Regions from separate parts of the Homo sapiens genome. Here region 2 is linked to region 1. The links come from fine-mapping of genetic effects on gene expression. Tissue or cell type: blood mononuclear cells. Region 1 holds a variant in brackets; the other region holds the start of a gene. All regions are shown on one strand. Distances are between the middles of the regions. Region 1 overlaps TENM4 (teneurin transmembrane protein 4). Region 2 holds the start of TENM4 (teneurin transmembrane protein 4).

Region 1 (8,330 bases):
AAGAACATAATATGCTGTTTTTTTGAGGGGGATTGTTCTGTGCTGTTTAATAGAGACACAACAGGTACTCAAAGTCTCAAATGGCAAGTGGGGTTTGGAGGGTGCAGGTGTGTGGTAACTTGGAGGGAGGAGGGGCACAGGGATCCTGTGTCCACAGACTAAGAGAGATGGTGTTAGGAAAAGTGCTGCCAACAGGCTGAAACTGTGAACCAGGACCTTTGAAAAGCTCTGGGGATTCCCAAAGGATAGGGGAAAAATATGTTTTTCATGGAATAACATGGATAAATCTCACAAATCTTTCTATATTTTCTATAGCTGTAAAGTAAAGCAAATTTACTTTAGAAAAGGGGTTATTTTTTGAATAAGAATTTGTAACAGTTAGATTTTAATGAGGGTACATAATTTGTAATTAGGCATTATTCGCTCTTCAAAATCTTGTTCTAACTGGGTAATTAATTGCATTTTTGATTATAGAAGTTAATCCATATATACTCTCATCTTAACAGGGGATTACTTTTTTGTAGATGAGGCACAAATAGAGGGTTTAATAACCTAGCTTCTTTCAGTCTTCTATGATTGAAAAATCTCCCGATCTAAAATATGTGATCTGAATGAACATTATTGACCATCTGGTGGAAATTACCCAAAATGTTGACAGTGAACTTAGATTAGTGGTTCTCAATCTTGGCTGCACACCATGAAGGGAACTTTGAAAAAAATACTGATGCTTGGGTGACAGCCCCAGAGGTTCTGATTTGATTGGTCTTGGCAGCAATCTGGGCATCTGGATTCTTAAAAGCCCTTTAGGTGTTTATAACGTGGATCCAAGGTGAAAGCCACTGGCCTAGAGAGAGTTAATTCACTCTCATGGAACTAGCCTTTCTTTCTCTCCAATGCCACTTTGGGCTGCAACCCTATGTTGTGCAGCCCACATCATTGCTCGGTGACCACAGGCTTTAGAATGTGCAGTGATTTTTCATGAAAGGGTGGCTCCTGACCATCCATTTTATTTTATTTTATTTTATTTTATTTTATTTTATTTTAATTTTATTTTTTGAGACGGAGTCTTGCTCTGTTGCCCAGGCTGGAGTGCAGTGGTGCCATCTCGGCTCACTGCAACTTCTGCCTCCTGGGTTTAAGAGATTCTCCTGCCTTAGCCTCCCGAGTAGCTTGGATTATAGGCACCTGCCACTACTCCCAGCTAATTTTTATATTTTTAGTAGAGACAGGGTTTCATCATGTTGGCCAGGCTGGTCTTGAACTCCTGACCTCAAGTGATTTGCCCACCTCAGCCTCCCAAAGTGCTGGGATTACAGGCGTGAGCCACTGCGTGCTCCGAGTTTTGTGGGTTATTGTTAAGCTGACCATCCATTTTAATGCCTCACTGTGCAGGTGGGAAATCCGAGAGTCAGAAGGAAGAAGTAGTTTGTGCATGTTCATACAGCAGGTGAGTCAGTGATAGACTGGGACTGAAATTCAACCCCCCCGCATCTCAGACCAGGAGCTCAGAATCTGGCACGGTCAGCAGAGGGGTGAGGATGATGAGCAGCATGGGGAAGTGGGTGTCCCTGACTGGAGGGAAGGACACCAAATGGGGATGCTCTGAAGCCCACAGATCAAGTGCGAGGCTGGACGCAGACCAGGTGCTCCATGACTGTTGTTGAATGAAAACAAGAAGCATGCCTGCACAGCATCGTGTTATTACTATCAATGTTACTCTTCATTTCGCAAAAGAAATACTGATTAGGTCCTATTGAGGAAAATGAAGGAATTGTATGGATTCAGGCCCTCTGCTATGTTCAGTTTCTATTCATTCCTCCACAAGCTGGGTCTAAAACACTGTAAATTAACACTGCTGTGGCACTGAATGAAATTCCTGGTCATCAGGCTGGCATGTGTGCCTGTCTGTCTGGCTGGCTATTTGGCTGGCTGGCTGGTTAGCTGTGTTCTAGCAGATGAACCCATGGGGAAGAAAGGAAGGGGGGGCAGGTTATCTTGATTCTAGTGCAGAAGGTTTCCTTGGTTGCTTCATAGAAATATGGGGCTCAATATTCTGGCAGTGCTGAAGGGCAGGGACGTGCCTTATGTGAACATTCATTTCTGTGCCGTGGTTTCTTGTTCAAGGCTTGACACACAGAAAGCAGGGCAGGTTTGGTGCATGAATGATGAATTGAAAAATCTCTATTATTCTAATATTTTGTTGATCAAGGATGTCAGTAATGTGGTGTTTTGTTTTAGACTACAGTAAAAAAATAGAAACACATGTATATATAGTGGGGAGTGGGAGGGGTCAAGAGGAGAGAGAAACAGGATCAGGAGCTCCCCACCGGCCATGAGCACCCTCCCTGGCCCACAGCTTGCATCTCCAGCACCCACACCTGGCACAGAACATGAAGACACACCAGTGAGGTGGTGATTGAGCAGGTTTACTCCTTACTGAGTTTGTGGCCATGGGCCTGAAATATCGCAGCTCCCTTCCTGATTTGCTTCTTGTCAGATTCTCATCAGAAAATAGAATTCATCCCAGATGGTCCAAATAAAGAGACTTGAATGAAGGAAGTGTTTTGTGGAAGTGGAGCAGTCAGGGTTAAGGGAACAAATAAGAGATGTTGAGGGCACCTGGGGGTGGAACCAAACCACCCAGGTCTAAAGGGGCAAGGCAAGGAGAGAAAGTGGTATTTCTGAAGCCAAAAGAGAGCAAGGCCTGATGGAGAGGCTGCTGTGGGCAGGAGCTGGCATTGTAGTGCTAGGCAGCACTGAAGCAAGGCGGAGGCAAGGCTCTTCCCCTCCTGCCCTCCCCTCTCCTGCTAGTGCTTTCTGTTGGCCAAAGCCAGTGAGGGGTGGCCAGAAAGGGGACTCAGAGGGTACACCTACTTGACCAGCCTCCTGGGCACAGAGCAGGGCAGAAAGGCAGAAGATGGATGGCGGGGCCAGGGTGCAGTTGGAGAAGCCACAGCACACTCATGAAGGGAAGGGTCTGTAGGGGCAGAGGGAGACCCAGGAGGCCACAGGCAGAGCGTGCCTGCTCGCAGCCCCTGGGGGCTGTGTGCTTCAGGGAAGTAATTAATACCATATCCAGGAATCTCATCCCTGGACCCATAATTACATGTACAGGAATTTTTTAAAGGGTTGATGGCAGTGGTTTTAATGTCTCATAAATATTCTTCCAAGGATTCTCCCCATAGAGAGGAGTGGTTTCATTTCTCAGGCTTGAAGCCAGCTCTGAGCCTTTGAAGAAGAGGCTCCCAGCCTCTTCTCGGGAAACAAATCTCACGGTAGCACCCCTTCCCCAGTGTCCTCCTCCCCCTCCCTACCCTCCATCCCTTCTCCCTGCTTCACTGAGGACTCAGGTCTCCATGTTTACAAGATGCTCTGGACTTCATAATTGCTTGGATTCTGCCACATAGGAGGCTTCCTTCAGGAAGTATTCCAGGATTGCTGCCAGTAGAGTTCCTGAGGCTGATCTCTGCAGGGCATGGGGGATTGCAGATGCTGGTAAAAACTTTCTTGAGAACTCCATGTTTGCTCATTTTGACTAAATTCTGGACTGAGAGTGGCATGTACATAAGTAGGAGGCTTTCATTCCACCGAAAGCGAAGCCTGCACAAGGCAGAGGAAAAGAAACACAAGACAGAAGGAACAAAAGAGCATGTGTCTGAAGCCCCCAGGTTAAGGAAGGGTGTTCACAGAGACCACCACCTCTAATCCCCAGAGAACCCTCTGGCACGGCCACTGCCAATTCCCTCAGTTGATTTGGCTCAGGTGTGGCTGGCTGAAGGCTGCCCGGCCAGACGAGTTACATTTGAATCTTGGCCCTCCCCCTAATGAGCTGTGTGTCCTTGGGCAACTCCCTGTACCTATCTGATTTGCTATTTTCTCCTTCGGAAAATTGTGTTGTAATTATGTCTAAGTTGAGATAATTTATGCAAAAATATTCTACCACCATATCTGGCACGTGCCAAATGCTCCCTAAATGTGACCTAGTTTGAAACCCCACCTTGGAATGAACCAAAGCCTGGACCCTCTTGTTGTCATTGAAATTTGTGTATAGCCCGTCCATTGTCAAGGCCTGTTCAAGGAAGAGCAGTGTGGTGTGTGGGCTCTGGAACAGGACGGCCTTGGTCCAGATCCTGCCTCTGCCACTTACTCACTGTGTGGTCTGAGGGAAATCACCTAACCTCTCTGGTCCTCAATTTTCTCACCTGGAGATAACATGAGTACTGACTTCATATGGCTGTCAGGAGGAACATATGAAATAGTGAATGCTCAGAGCTTTGTACCGTGCCAAACAGCGCTCAAGTGAACGTCGGATATCACAGTACTCCTTGAACCCATCCAATTCAAATATCCCAATGCTTACTGACTCACTGTCTACCTTGCACACTAGATGGGCTGCTCATTTGCACCCTAATACCTGGCCCCAAATTCGGTCCAGAGTTTAATGAACTCAATTCGGTCAACGGGTTGAATGAACGCTTGAGTGGTGAGCAAACGTTGGGGACTCTTGAAACACAGGGCTAGGTCCTGTGTGTTAGCCAC[T/C]GCAGAAGCCATGGTTACAACAGACAAGGAGCCTTGGAGCATTTTAGAAACCTGATGCATTTAGAAAGCTGTGCACACTGGTTCTTTCCTCCTGGATTTTTTTTTTTTTTCCAGGCCATTTGAGCTGTGGGACATAATTGCATCATTGGCTATAAAGACTGCTTTCCTGAGGGGGTACTTGTTTAGAAGTTCCAGGCCGGACTTGGCTACCCTTGATTGACCACTTGAGAAGCCTGATAATGGCAGGGAATTGGGCTACCTGGGGAGCACTGTTGCCAAGGAAAAAAGCAAGCTGGTGTAGCAAGGAGGTCAGAAGGGCTATCTGACCTGCACGGATCATGCACTCAAGAGTCAGGGCTACAAGGAGCCTGCCAGAGGCCTCGGAGGATCTAGAGAGGCCTGTTGTGTTCTAGGCTCCTGCATTTGGGGCCTTAGTGTGAGTTATCTCCACTAATCCTCCAAGAATTCTACAGGGAAGTTATTCTCATTCTCACCAGACAGTTGAGAAACCAAGATTGAGAATGGCTTATGGTCACACAGCCCCAAGCCTTACTACACAGCCTCTATTCTTCGATCTTCCTTACAAAGCTTCTGGCTTGGTTTTCCAGTCTGCACATCCAGGAACCTCCAACATTCAATTCTGAGTAATGGTTCTATTGCCTTTCCGTAAGAATGAAACGAATTTGATGAACATTTCCCAAAATCTGTTTCCTGGAACAAGCATCCTTGGAGTGCTTGGCTACAAAAGCGTTCTGTGATTAAACACATTTGGGAAATTCCCCTCCTTCTTGGAGGTTCACAGTGTGCATTCCCAAGTTCAAGATTCTGAGAAGTCCTGCAGTAAAGAAGCTATAATAAGCCAGCTTTTCCCAAGCTTATGCGACAAGGAATCTTTGCTTTGTTAATGCTTATTAACATCCTACAGAGCCAAATGACTCTTCAGTAAACACTGAAATAGATCAATCAGCCTGTTCCCAAGACCTGACTCAGCAAGTGGGCCCCCAAGGATGGAGATTCTCCCATGATACCACCCCAGTCCCTGAAATAGCATTGGATTCCCGCCTCCAGCATTCAGAAGCATAGTGCAGCCTTGTGTTGTCATTCATTCTCTTCCTCTCTTCTTTTTTTTTTTCCCTACACTGTCTTGATGTGGAAAATGCCCATGTGTGCCACTCCCAAGAACTATTGATAACTTATGAGAAATCTTGAAGGCAAACAAAAGGTGTTTAGACAATCTTGCTTTGCTTTTCTCATTCAACATTTGCTGCATTTCTGGAGATGTTGCCATCACACCTCCTTTTATAAAAGGACATTGGGAGGCTCATAGCTGCATGTGTTGGGGGAAGGAGGTTCTGTAGACAGAGAACAATTGTCCTGCTTCTCTCTGCCCCACCAGCCCTGCCCTCACTTTCACCCCCATTATTGACTGCCCCGTGGAGACAGAAAAGGGCTGAAGAGCAGACGAAAGTGGCTGGAACTCAACATGTCTAAAGCAGAGCTCTTGATCCCCCAGCCCCTGACAAGCCAGTCTCTCCCTCAGCTAATCCCCATCTGTAAACAGCACCACCATTAGCCCCGTTCCTCAAGCCTAAACCCTAGAAGCTGTCTCATTTTTCCTCTCCCTCACCACCCTCAGCCCATCCATTGTCCAGGCCTGTTCAAGGAAGAGCAGTGTGGTGTATGGGCTCTGGAACAGGATGGCCTTGGTCCAGATCCTGCCTCTGCCACTTACTCACTGTGTGGTCTGAGGGAAATCACCTAACCTCTCTGGTCCTTAATTTTCTCACCTGGAGATAACATGAGCACTGACTTCATATGGCTGTCAGAAGGAGCATATAAAATAGTGGATGCTCAGTGCTTTGTACAGTGCCAAGCAGCACTCAAGTGAACATCAGATATCACAGTACTCCTTGAACCCATCCGTCTCTCCATCTCAAATTGGACCACCCTGATCCAGTCCATTGTCATCTCTCCCTGAACCACGTCAATCGTATCTAAAAGGGGTCCTGTTTCCACTCTACGCTAGTACAGTCTCCACACAGCATCCAGAGAGGTCTTCCGATAACACGGCTATAACAGCCTCACTCCCCTGCATAAAAACCCTCAAAGTAGGTTTAGCATCACAATTAAAATAAAACTTAAACAACTCAGGCCTGACCTGGCCTGGGAGGTAGCTCTTTGACTTTCCTTGTGCTGTTCTCAACCTAGTCCACTGCTCCAGGCACTCTGACCTCTGCTCTGTCCTTGAACCCACGAGCCTTTCTCTCCTCCTGGCCTTGCATATGCTGCTACCTATTGCTAACCCGTCCAGCACCCTCGCTTGTAAAGGCCTTCCCCTGGGCCTGTCTCTGCCAGCAAAATGTGCATTTCCTCACACTCTCATTGTCTTATTTTCTTACCCCTACAAGCACTGTAACCTCTATGAGGGCAGAGGCTTGGGCTTACCAGTGTGTTTGCAGAAAGAATGCAGAAGAAGGAATAAAGAAGGACTGTGTTACAGGTTTCCTGAGCCACACTTTCCTCATTTTCTTTCTTTCCTTTTTTTTTTTTTTTTTTTTAACAGACAGGGCCTCATTCTGTCACCCAGGCTGGAGTGCATTGGTGCAATCATAGCTCACTACAGCCTCAACTTCCTGGGCTGAAACGGTCCTTCCACCTCAGCCTCCTGAGTATCTGGGACAACAGGTGCACACAACCATGCCTGGCTCTCATCTTCTTTCTATTATCCATATTTTACAGGTGAGGCTGCTGAGGCAGGGAAGGTTAAGACATATTTCCTGTGCCTCTCAGTTCATTAGTGGTGGTTCGAGGATTCAACCCCCAGCAGTCTGGAGCCTGCACCTGCCCCTTCTCTGCATACTGTGTGAGTGGGAGCCCAGTCTGGACATAAGGTGGAGTGTGGAAGTGGTTCAGAGCAAGGCATGCCCCCAGGTGACAGTCTGGACCGGGATTCCAGAAGAAAGACCTAGATTATTCCTCCCATGCTCCTCACTTAGCTGGGCAGCCATGCAATGTTCCTTCTCCACCAGTCTTGCTCGTTTTCATCATCTTCTTTCCCCTGTTCTTCCCCAGTTGCCCTGTCAGGAGCGTGATCCCCACATCCAGACTAAGGCCTTGGCAGGGACCAGGATAAAGAGCCAGAGAAGGGCCCCAGGCCCCCTACTCCATTGGCCCCTACAGGTGCAGGACAGATCTTGGTGGCGACAGGTCTCCAGTGCCCAAGATCCAGGCATGCACAAGATTTCCTATGAGACAGAAAAGCATTAGTTCCTGGGGAGAAGCTGTTGCCTTTCTAACCTTGACATTTTCAGGTGGTACCAGCAGCTTTGTACTTTAATTTGCCTTTTTTTAAAATAAAAATTTTAGACCAGTGGGTCTAGAAAAGTCAATTCTCAAGGAAGGCACGGAGAGTAAAGATGATGAAATGAGAGGATGTTCAACTGTGTTTAGTGTTTGAGCCTGACCTCTGTATTATGGGAAAGACACACTTACCGGGAAAAGATCCTTGGCTGGTTACAAAAGGATGGGAAAGGTGCCCTTGGCAGAGTAAAATATCTCTATTTTTTTTAATTGTATTTTGTTTTGTTTTTTGGCTTGTGTTTCTTTCTAGGACGTTATAGCTTTCCAGTAAATCACATCTCCACTTTCTAGGGAGTACAGAACACTTTTCTTTTAGGGCCACATTTAACCCATCCAGCTTCCCTCTTGGGAATGCTGTCCAGTACTTCCCTTGCAAGTGAAGGCTTAGCTTGGTGACTGGCACATAGTGAGCACTAGGTTAGCACTGACAC
Region 2 (8,330 bases), 60 kb before region 1:
ACCACCAGCCTCACCTCTTGGCTTTTAAAAATGGGGCTATGCTGGGAAAGGCAAGTGGCTTGGGAGTTCTGGAGAGCTGGATTCTGATTCTGATTCGGCTGAGCCAGAACCTCACAAGCCTCAGTGTGTTCACTCTCCCCCTCTAGTTATCACAATTCTATGTGATAACACACCGTGGAAGCTCCAGGGCCACACAGAAGGCTCTTCAAGAATGTCTCTTATTCCTTCTTTTAGTTCTAGCCCCTGCTCTGCCTCTTTGTTTGAACCTCTCTGGGTCCCTCTTCCTCTTGGTGCACACTGGAAGTAGGATTCCAGCAGGCGTGGGTACAAGGATTGAGTCAATCAACAGATGCGGAGGCCCTTTGAAAAGGTGAAAGGGCTATGCTGTGTAAGGTGTTATTATTATTAGGTTGGGGAAATTACCCACAGGGTAAATATTTCTGTGAGACGAAAATCAGAGATGCAGATGTAACCTCACCAGGGAACTATTTACAGCAACTTTTCCAAAGACTGAGACTATCCTCTGGCAGGCACTTTTCTCACCCTCTAATTATGGAAGTTTGATGGCATTTATCAGTAGGTGTCCAAATCCTAAGTAACCAACTTGCATATTTGATGTGGTGTCAGACAACAGGCATGAGGCATTGCCTCTTGCTCCTCAGTGTCTTCTTGCTTTGAAGTACTTACTCCCTGAAACAATTTTATAGTAACAGCTGGACTCTGAAGGGAAGGATTTTTTTTTTGCAAATAAATACATTTGCTAATTAAAACTTGCCCTTTAAAGACTCACATTTTCTTGACCCCACTATATGTTTTCTTTTGCTTGTAACATATCACAGAATCAATAAGGGCAATGCAAACATCTTTAATATATACAGTTTCAACAGCTCTCATAATGTATCTGCCTCCATAAGAATGCCCTCTCCCCCTCTCTAGCCCAGCTACTAATTTCCCCTGATTTGTTAAATGCCTCCTTATTTCACTCTCAGAGATAAAACTCAAAACGCAGTTACTCTTCAGGGGGAGTGGGAACGGTGGATTGAAAAGGGATAAAGTCAGGGGAGGGGGAATGATCATAGCCATGTCTTTGTGTTTTTTTAATGGCAGCTTTAAAAAGTTTTTATAATGGAATAATGAATGTTTATAGTAGGAAGATTATAAAATGCCAGAAAAAGTATAAAGAAGAAAATATATATTACTCATAACCCCATCACCCAGAAGAAAACACGGTTAATATTTGGCATTTTTTTCTTCAGACTTTTCTGCAAGAGGGTTTTTATGTAGCTAACAATTTTGAATTCTCTTTTAAAATATTATATATGACAATACTAACTTTTTTATGGCACGAAAAACTGCAAAAACACTTTCGAGTAGCTGCATAATATTCCAACAAAGGCTGTCCTCCAGTTTACTTATTTTATTTGACCATTTAGGCTGCTTCAATTTTTTTCCCATTATTACAAATAATGTACTGTCATTATATCCAATCTCCTGTTTTTCTGGGCAATACGTAGAGCTGGCTGTTTGGAGGTCTTAGGCTGAATTTTACAACTAGTGTTTCCTATGGCACAGAGCAGCCATATAGGAGAATCTCCGGTTAGCTATAGAGTTAGATTATAACATGGTAGCAACTGACCTTTTTTCCCCCCTCTAAAATGCTCCCTGAATTCTACTTCCTCCTGAATACTCTTGACATCGCAATGAGTAGTACCACCTTCTATTGAGATACCCAAGCTTGAAAACTGAGTGTCACTTTGGGCTTCTCCTTGCTACCCCCATCCAATCAGAAATCAAAATCATCCTCAATCTCTCTCAAATCTCTCCTCCCTTTTCTGGCTTCATTGCAACTGCCTTAGTTTCCCTAAATGACCTACTTTTTCCTGCCTCTACTCTTCCTAAGTCACCCCAGTTAATCCATTTCTCTACACTGCTGCCAAATCATCTTTTGAAAACACACTCAAGATCACATCCTTCCTCTTCTTAAAAGCCTTTATTAACTGTCTACCCTCCTTCTGCCCCAGTACCTGAACTTTCAGGATGTTTGGATCCTTAGCCTCCTTCAGGCCCTGTCAAAATCCAATCCTAGATGCTAGGGACTCATCTAGACTCCTCCAAGACCCTCCCCCAATATGTCCAACTCTGCTATGAGTGTCTCATGCTTTTGTCCATGTCATCATACTATTGCCTGTACCTAAAAAGCATCTCCCCTCCTTTCACGGTCTAGCTAATTCCTTGCCTTCAAAACTCAGCTCAAGGCCAGGTATGGTAGCTCACACCTATAATCCCAGCACTCTGGGAAGCCTAGGGCAGAGGATTGATGGTATTTGAGACCAGCCTGGGCAACATAGTGAGACCTCATCTGTAAAACAAACAAACAAACAAATAAAATTAGTTTGGCGTGGTGTGGTGGCACATGCCTGTGGTCCCAGCTACTCAAGAGGCTGAGGTGGGAGGATCACCTGAGCTCAGGAGGTTGAGGCTTCAGTGAACCAAGATGGCACCACTGCACTCCAGCCTGGATGACAGAGTGAGAACCTGTCATCTCCTATGGGAAGTCTTCCCTTACTCCCAACAATTCCATTGGGCATCCCTCATGATTAGATTCAGGTTATTCATGTCTACCAGGAATATCACAGAAGTGATATGTCCTTCCCAGTGCACTATATCAGGGGCCACTTGATGTCTATTTGTCACATTCCTGCTAATACTGATTTTAATCACTCAAGGTGGAGTCTTTCAGGTTTTCTATTGAAAAGTTACTATTTTCCCCTTTGAAATTAATCAGTATCATGTGGGCAGATACTTTGAACCTATATATATTTTTTGTTTCTCAACATACTTTCACCCACTACTTTTAGCATCTGGGTCTCATTTTTCTCACTGGTCAAATGAAATGCATAGACTGAAAGTGATTTGCAAAATTATCACTCTCAAAGATCCCTTTCTTATACTCCCTGTCTTGGATCTTCTGTAATGAAAGAATTTGTCCACCAAACCAATGTTACTCCTTCAGGTACATGTGTCTCATTTTCTCAGTGTACATTCATGAAACATGCCTACTGAACTGTAAGCTCAGAAAACAGGGCCTGTTTGTCTCACCACTGAATGCCGAGACCTATCACAGCACCTGCCACAAAGTAGGTGGTCAAGAAATATTTGTTGAAGGACTAAATCTAACTGCCAATCACAGCTGATGCCCAGCATTTGATGTCTGCAGTGAGGACACAAAGTTGATAAATGCTATTCAAAGGCAGAGACTTGACATTTTAGTTAATCTCAGAGGCTTTGTCACTGGTCACTGTACACTTATCATAAAGATTTTAAAAATAGATTGGACAGATTGTGTGGAAACTTCCCACCCACCCCAACCCATCCCTGCCTTTCTGAGATGCCCTAGTTATGAGATGTTGAAGGGGCATTCCAGCACCCCACGTTTATAATCTGTGATGCCTTTATAATCAGCATATGGCAACTGGCTAGACAGTCTCCTCACCACACAGAAGAGTTTTCAAAATAGCCTACCCCTCCTTTCACATTTATGTGAAATTAGCATTGTCACATTTCCTCCTTCATTGACTACTTTAGATCAGAGAGACACACTGTAGCAGAAGATCATGAAGGAAGTTGTCTTAAAGAAGGAAACTAACATAAATTAAGCATCTCATATACACCCAGTGCTTTCTTTCCATTGTTCTCTCTTTTAATCCTCACCAAAACTGGTGAAGTCGGTATCATCCATTTTATAGATGAGAAAACTGAAGCCGGGTAAGGGGAAATGGCTCGCACTAAGTCCTTTAGCCAGCAGGCAGCAGGGCTGGAGTGGGAATTCCTCCAGTCTCTTCCCCAAAGCCCTTCCAAGTTGCCACTCAGTCAAACTACCGCTCTCATCACATAAAAATGCCCTTCTCTTGGAAATGTGCTTGCCATCACGATCCAAACATTCGAGGGACAGAAATCTCTTGGACCGCAATCACTGCTATTTTTTAAGTGATTGTTATCACGACTCAGTAGCTGTTACCATGGTTTTGGGGAAGTTGTCCGAGGAAGGAGGGCCTTTCTTTGGGCATCTTGCATGCCTGAAGAAGGAACTCAAGATCTCAGCTCTTAATTACTCTGATTGTGCTGCAGTAGCAACTTGAAAGAGACCGTCCCTAGAAAAGTGTTGGGGTGGGGGGTGTGGAGTAACATCCAGCGAGCAGGCAGAAGGGAGGCCCTGGGCGCCAGAGAGACCCAGGGAAAGGCGAAGAGGAGGGAGAGGGGACGAGACCGTGCTACGGGGAGCCTGGAGAGAAAGCCAAAGGAGGAGGAAAGAACAAAAGGCAAGAGGAGAGGAAGTACAAGAAAGTCCAGAAAGGAAAAGAGAAAGTTTCAGAAAGGGGAAGAGAAAGCAAGCAAGGAGGGTAAAAGAAGAAAGAGACCAGAAAGATACCGAACTGAGAGAGCTCGGAGAACTCGAGAAAGCAAAGGAGGTAAAAGGAGAGAAGATGGAGAAGGCGGCGGAGAGGAAGGGGGAAGGAGACAGAGGAACCGAGACTGGGGTGAGGGAGCGGCCGCGCGTGGCCCCCGGAGAGGCGCCCATCACCTGCGTGGCGCCCCCCCGCGCCGGAGTGCGGCCCTGCTCCCAGCGCCAGTGCGCCGCGCGGCTCGCCGGCCTCGTAGGATTGGCTACCGCCTCCCATTCATGTAACCTGCGTGTGCGTGTGCGTGTGTGTGTGTGTCTCTCTCTCGCTCGCCCTCTCTTTCTGTGTGTAAGAGAGCGAGGGTGGGGGACGGAGGCAGGCAGGCGAGCAGGCAGGGAGGGGAAGAAGAGAAGGGAAGCTATTAAACACACACACACACACACACACTCACACACGCGCGCGCACACACCCGCCCCAACCCCCCAGAAGCCTCGGGATTGCAGCTGTTTCATGTGGGGCAGCAGTGCTGGCAGGGACGCCGGCCGGGAGCGGCCGGGAGCGGGAGCCGGTCGTGCGCGCGCGGCTGGAGGCTCGCTGGGGCTCCGCTCCCCGCGGGAGCTATTGTTGGTCTCGCTGGAGCTGAGCGCAGAGCCCGGACCTGCTCCTTCCTGGGCGCCCCGCTACGGCTCGCGGAGCAGAGGAGCCGCGCCGCCGAGAGAGAGAGGAGCCACCGGCGCGGCGCCTTGCCTCCCTGCCGCCGTCCTCGCCGCTTCCCCGGCGGTAGCAGCCTGCAGCCACGGTAAGGCGGCGTGATCCGCTCTACGGAAAAGCGCCTTGGGGACCGCGGCGACGCCTCGCCAGCTCCATCGCCCTCTGCACTGCTGGCCCGGGCAGGGTTCGGGTAGCTCACGCGGCTGCCGAGGGCTCCGGGAGATGTTTGCTTGCTCCCCTGGCCCAGGAGGAGGGAGGCTAGGGCGCGGGTGGCCGAAGAGGCAAGCTGTTCTGGAGCCTGGAGCCGCCGCAGCCCCCGGAGCCCGCCGCGGACTGGAGCCTGGGAGCAAGGGTTGGGGGAGGGCAGGGAGGTGGGAAGCGGGTGGGAGGGAGGCGGCGCGCCCCAGGTTCGTCTGCCTCTCCCGGATCCCGTTCCCCGCCCCGGCCCGGTCGCCTGCAGCCCCTCTGCAGACTAGCTCGCCCCAGGCCCCCGTCGGGCGCTGGAGGAGCCCGCGAGGCGGCGCCGGGCTTCAGCGGCTGCAGCCTGCCCTGCGGGGCAAGTGCCGGCTGCAGCAGCCCCGCACGGGCGGTGGTTGGAGCTCAGATCCTGGAGATGCGACCCCAGCTCCTCGCCCTCTGCAACCCGCGGGGCGCCCGCCTCTCCTCACCGGGCGCCCGGCCGCGGTATTGATGTTCGTCTAGGAGCCAACTGAGGCTGCAGCCGCCAGATGGACGCTTGGAGGGCTCCCGGGTGTGAGTGTGACTGTATGACTACTCTCACCCCCAGCTTCGGGAAATGTGCTCTGGGTTGAAATGTGATCACCGAGCTCCTCAGTCATTTTAATTGCCATTTTTAAATGCGGTCGTTACATTGGAGGAGCAGACTGGAAGGTAGTGGGGCGGCGTGTGTGTGTGTGTGTGTGTGTGTGTGTGGACACACACACGCAACCGAGGAATACACAACCAACTACTTGGGTGAAGGGCGGGGGGTTCACCTAGTGAGTCCTTCTTGGCGGGGGGGTCGGGCGAGTTAGCTGCCCGCTGCCCGCCCCTTCTCTGCCTGCCCCCGCCTAGGCGAGGTTGGAAAGTACTGGAAATTCAGCTGCGTGGTCCTTAACTTTGGAAATTGGCTCCGCTTTCAGGGCAAAATGTTAAGGCGATTTATGCACCCGCGTCCATGTGGATGAGTGTATTACTGCTCAGTTGGGTGCAGAGCCCTCAACAGTACCGCGCCAAGCCCCCACCCGATCTCTAACTCCCTCCCACCCCCTAACCGTGGAGAGAGGGTTTATAGAAATGCAGTTATCTGTAAACCATCGACGCAGTGAAAGGGGCGCAGGGAGGCAGCCAGAGTTTTGCCTGAACCTGCATACTGGCTTGGTGTTTGTAGCACACGAGATCACCCCGCTGCTTTGTAGAAGGCGGTGGTGGGGCAAGCTCGGGATTCCAATCGCCGGGGTGGGGGGTGGGGGGAAGAGGGTGCCCATGTACTGAGCTCTGAGGCCGAGTAAGGAGAGAGATCTGCTGAGCGGCATCGCGGGCAATTACATAAGCTGCCTCGGTGATTACCCGGAACTGTGATGCGAGCTCCCGGTTCTCGAAAGACAAGCCTGAAAGTTTGCCTGCTTGGGGAGTGTAAGTACCGGGGCGCCCCCACCCCGGCCTGGGTAGCTAGGATACGCCTCGCACCACGGCGCCCACTTGTGCGATGGGCGTCGGGTGCTGATGCTGCTGTCCCCAAAGAACCGGTTACCGAGGCAGGGACTAAGTGGGGGCATCCGGAATTGATCGCAGAGGAGGAGTCAGTCAGAACTGAGGTTTCATTGGGTCTTCAGAGCTCCAAGTCTTCCCTCGGAGGTGTTGGAAGGCCTTCCAGGGAACGCCGTTTTCAGAAACTGACTTGGTGTCCTGGGGAGCCCCAAAGCCCCTCTTTTCCGCCCTTCCTGGGCGCCCCTCCTTGTCTTTCAAGCCCTGTGCCCTTCACGTGTTTAGAAACCTGCCCGCGGTGCCTGGTCCCCCTTGGAGATGCCCAGGCAGCCCAGCCATCCAGGCCCACGCTGGCGAGGGGTTAGAGGGAGTAGAACGCTGGCTCTGCCGGGCTGCCACCCTTACCTACACCTATTCCTGGTTTCCTGCGCTAGCCCGGCGCTGATGGGGACGGGATGGGGCTGGGGTCGGGTATGGCTTCCGTTCCTTCGCCTCTCGCCTCTGCAGACAGCAGTTTGCTTCTGTTGCGTTTATTCTCCCCGTTTCGCCGCTTCCCTCCAGCGCCGCAGCCTGTGTATCACGTTGATGGGCTTTGATAGAGAAACCACAGTAAGAGTATGCTTTTAAATCTTGATTTTCGTCTGTAGGGGGATAAGCCACCCCAGCCCTGACACAGCCGTGGGGAACGCTGAAGTCTGGGACACATTGGCCCTGAACTCCCTTCCCCCCAGCCCGCAGTCAGGAGATGGTGATGTGCATGGGTGGGGAGTGTTTTGTTTTTGCCACATTCCAGCGTCCTGAAACCTCTCGTCCCCTCCCACTGAAATCCCCGATCTGTCTGAATCTGTTCCTTGCTGTAAAATAAATCCTCCCTCCCGCAGACCTGTGGGGCCCTTCGGATTTCCTGCCGCTGCCATGATCCTTAACAATGCGATTGAAAAGCCAGTGCTCGGCTGGAAAAAAATCCCCAGGTGCCAGCCGGCCGCGCCTTGACCTTGCTGAAGGAGCCTTTAACCCGGCTGCCAGAGGGGCTCTGGTCCAGCCGTGGGAATCCAGGAAGAAGGAGGGCGCCCCGGAGGCGGCTGGGTTAGCTCCCCGGGCAGGGCGGGAATCAGGTCGCGGCGGGGACCGCAGAGGGGGAGGGGACGGGACTCCGCGGCAACCTGTTTCCCGGCGAGCCGGGCCCGCGCATCCCAGCTCCCTCGCCCCAGCCCCTCGTGGCCCGCCTCCCCCGCCGGCCTCCAGTTGTCTTCGTGGTACAGGAGTCGGCCGCGACTCCCTCGCGCTCTCCGCCGGAGTCCGCGGGACGCCGCCAACTTTGGGCTCCTCGGTGGCCGGAGCAGCGGTGCGAACCAGCGGGGCGGCCGGGTGGGCGGGGCCTGGGCGGGAAACTGGAGCCGAGAAGACCGCGTTCCAGGCCAAGTTCCAGCCGCAAGCGCCGCGCGGCACAGTGCAGGGTCCCGGCCGCGCCTTTCTCCCGTCCCCGGCCCGGCCGCGTTCCTGCGGACTCAC

What was found.
Region 2: it holds the start of TENM4, and the variant in region 1 is fine-mapped to the expression of TENM4 in blood mononuclear cells (TOPMed, PIP above 0.99). The same link has a PIP of 0.9 or more in T cells, lung and monocytes.

The regions. Positions count from the first base shown.
Region 1 is chr11:79,377,652-79,385,981 of GRCh38, reverse strand. All of the region lies in intron 1 of TENM4 (teneurin transmembrane protein 4), which reads left to right. Among named protein-coding and RNA genes, the nearest start is that of MIR708, 20 kb to the left of the region's middle. The variant T/C (reference allele first, on the strand shown) is at 4,540.
Region 2 is chr11:79,437,378-79,445,707 of GRCh38, reverse strand. TENM4 (teneurin transmembrane protein 4) reads left to right here and starts at 4,678. Exons shown (of 34, transcript NM_001098816.3): 1 at 4,678-5,199. RefSeq lists silencers at 4,550-4,719, 4,980-5,089.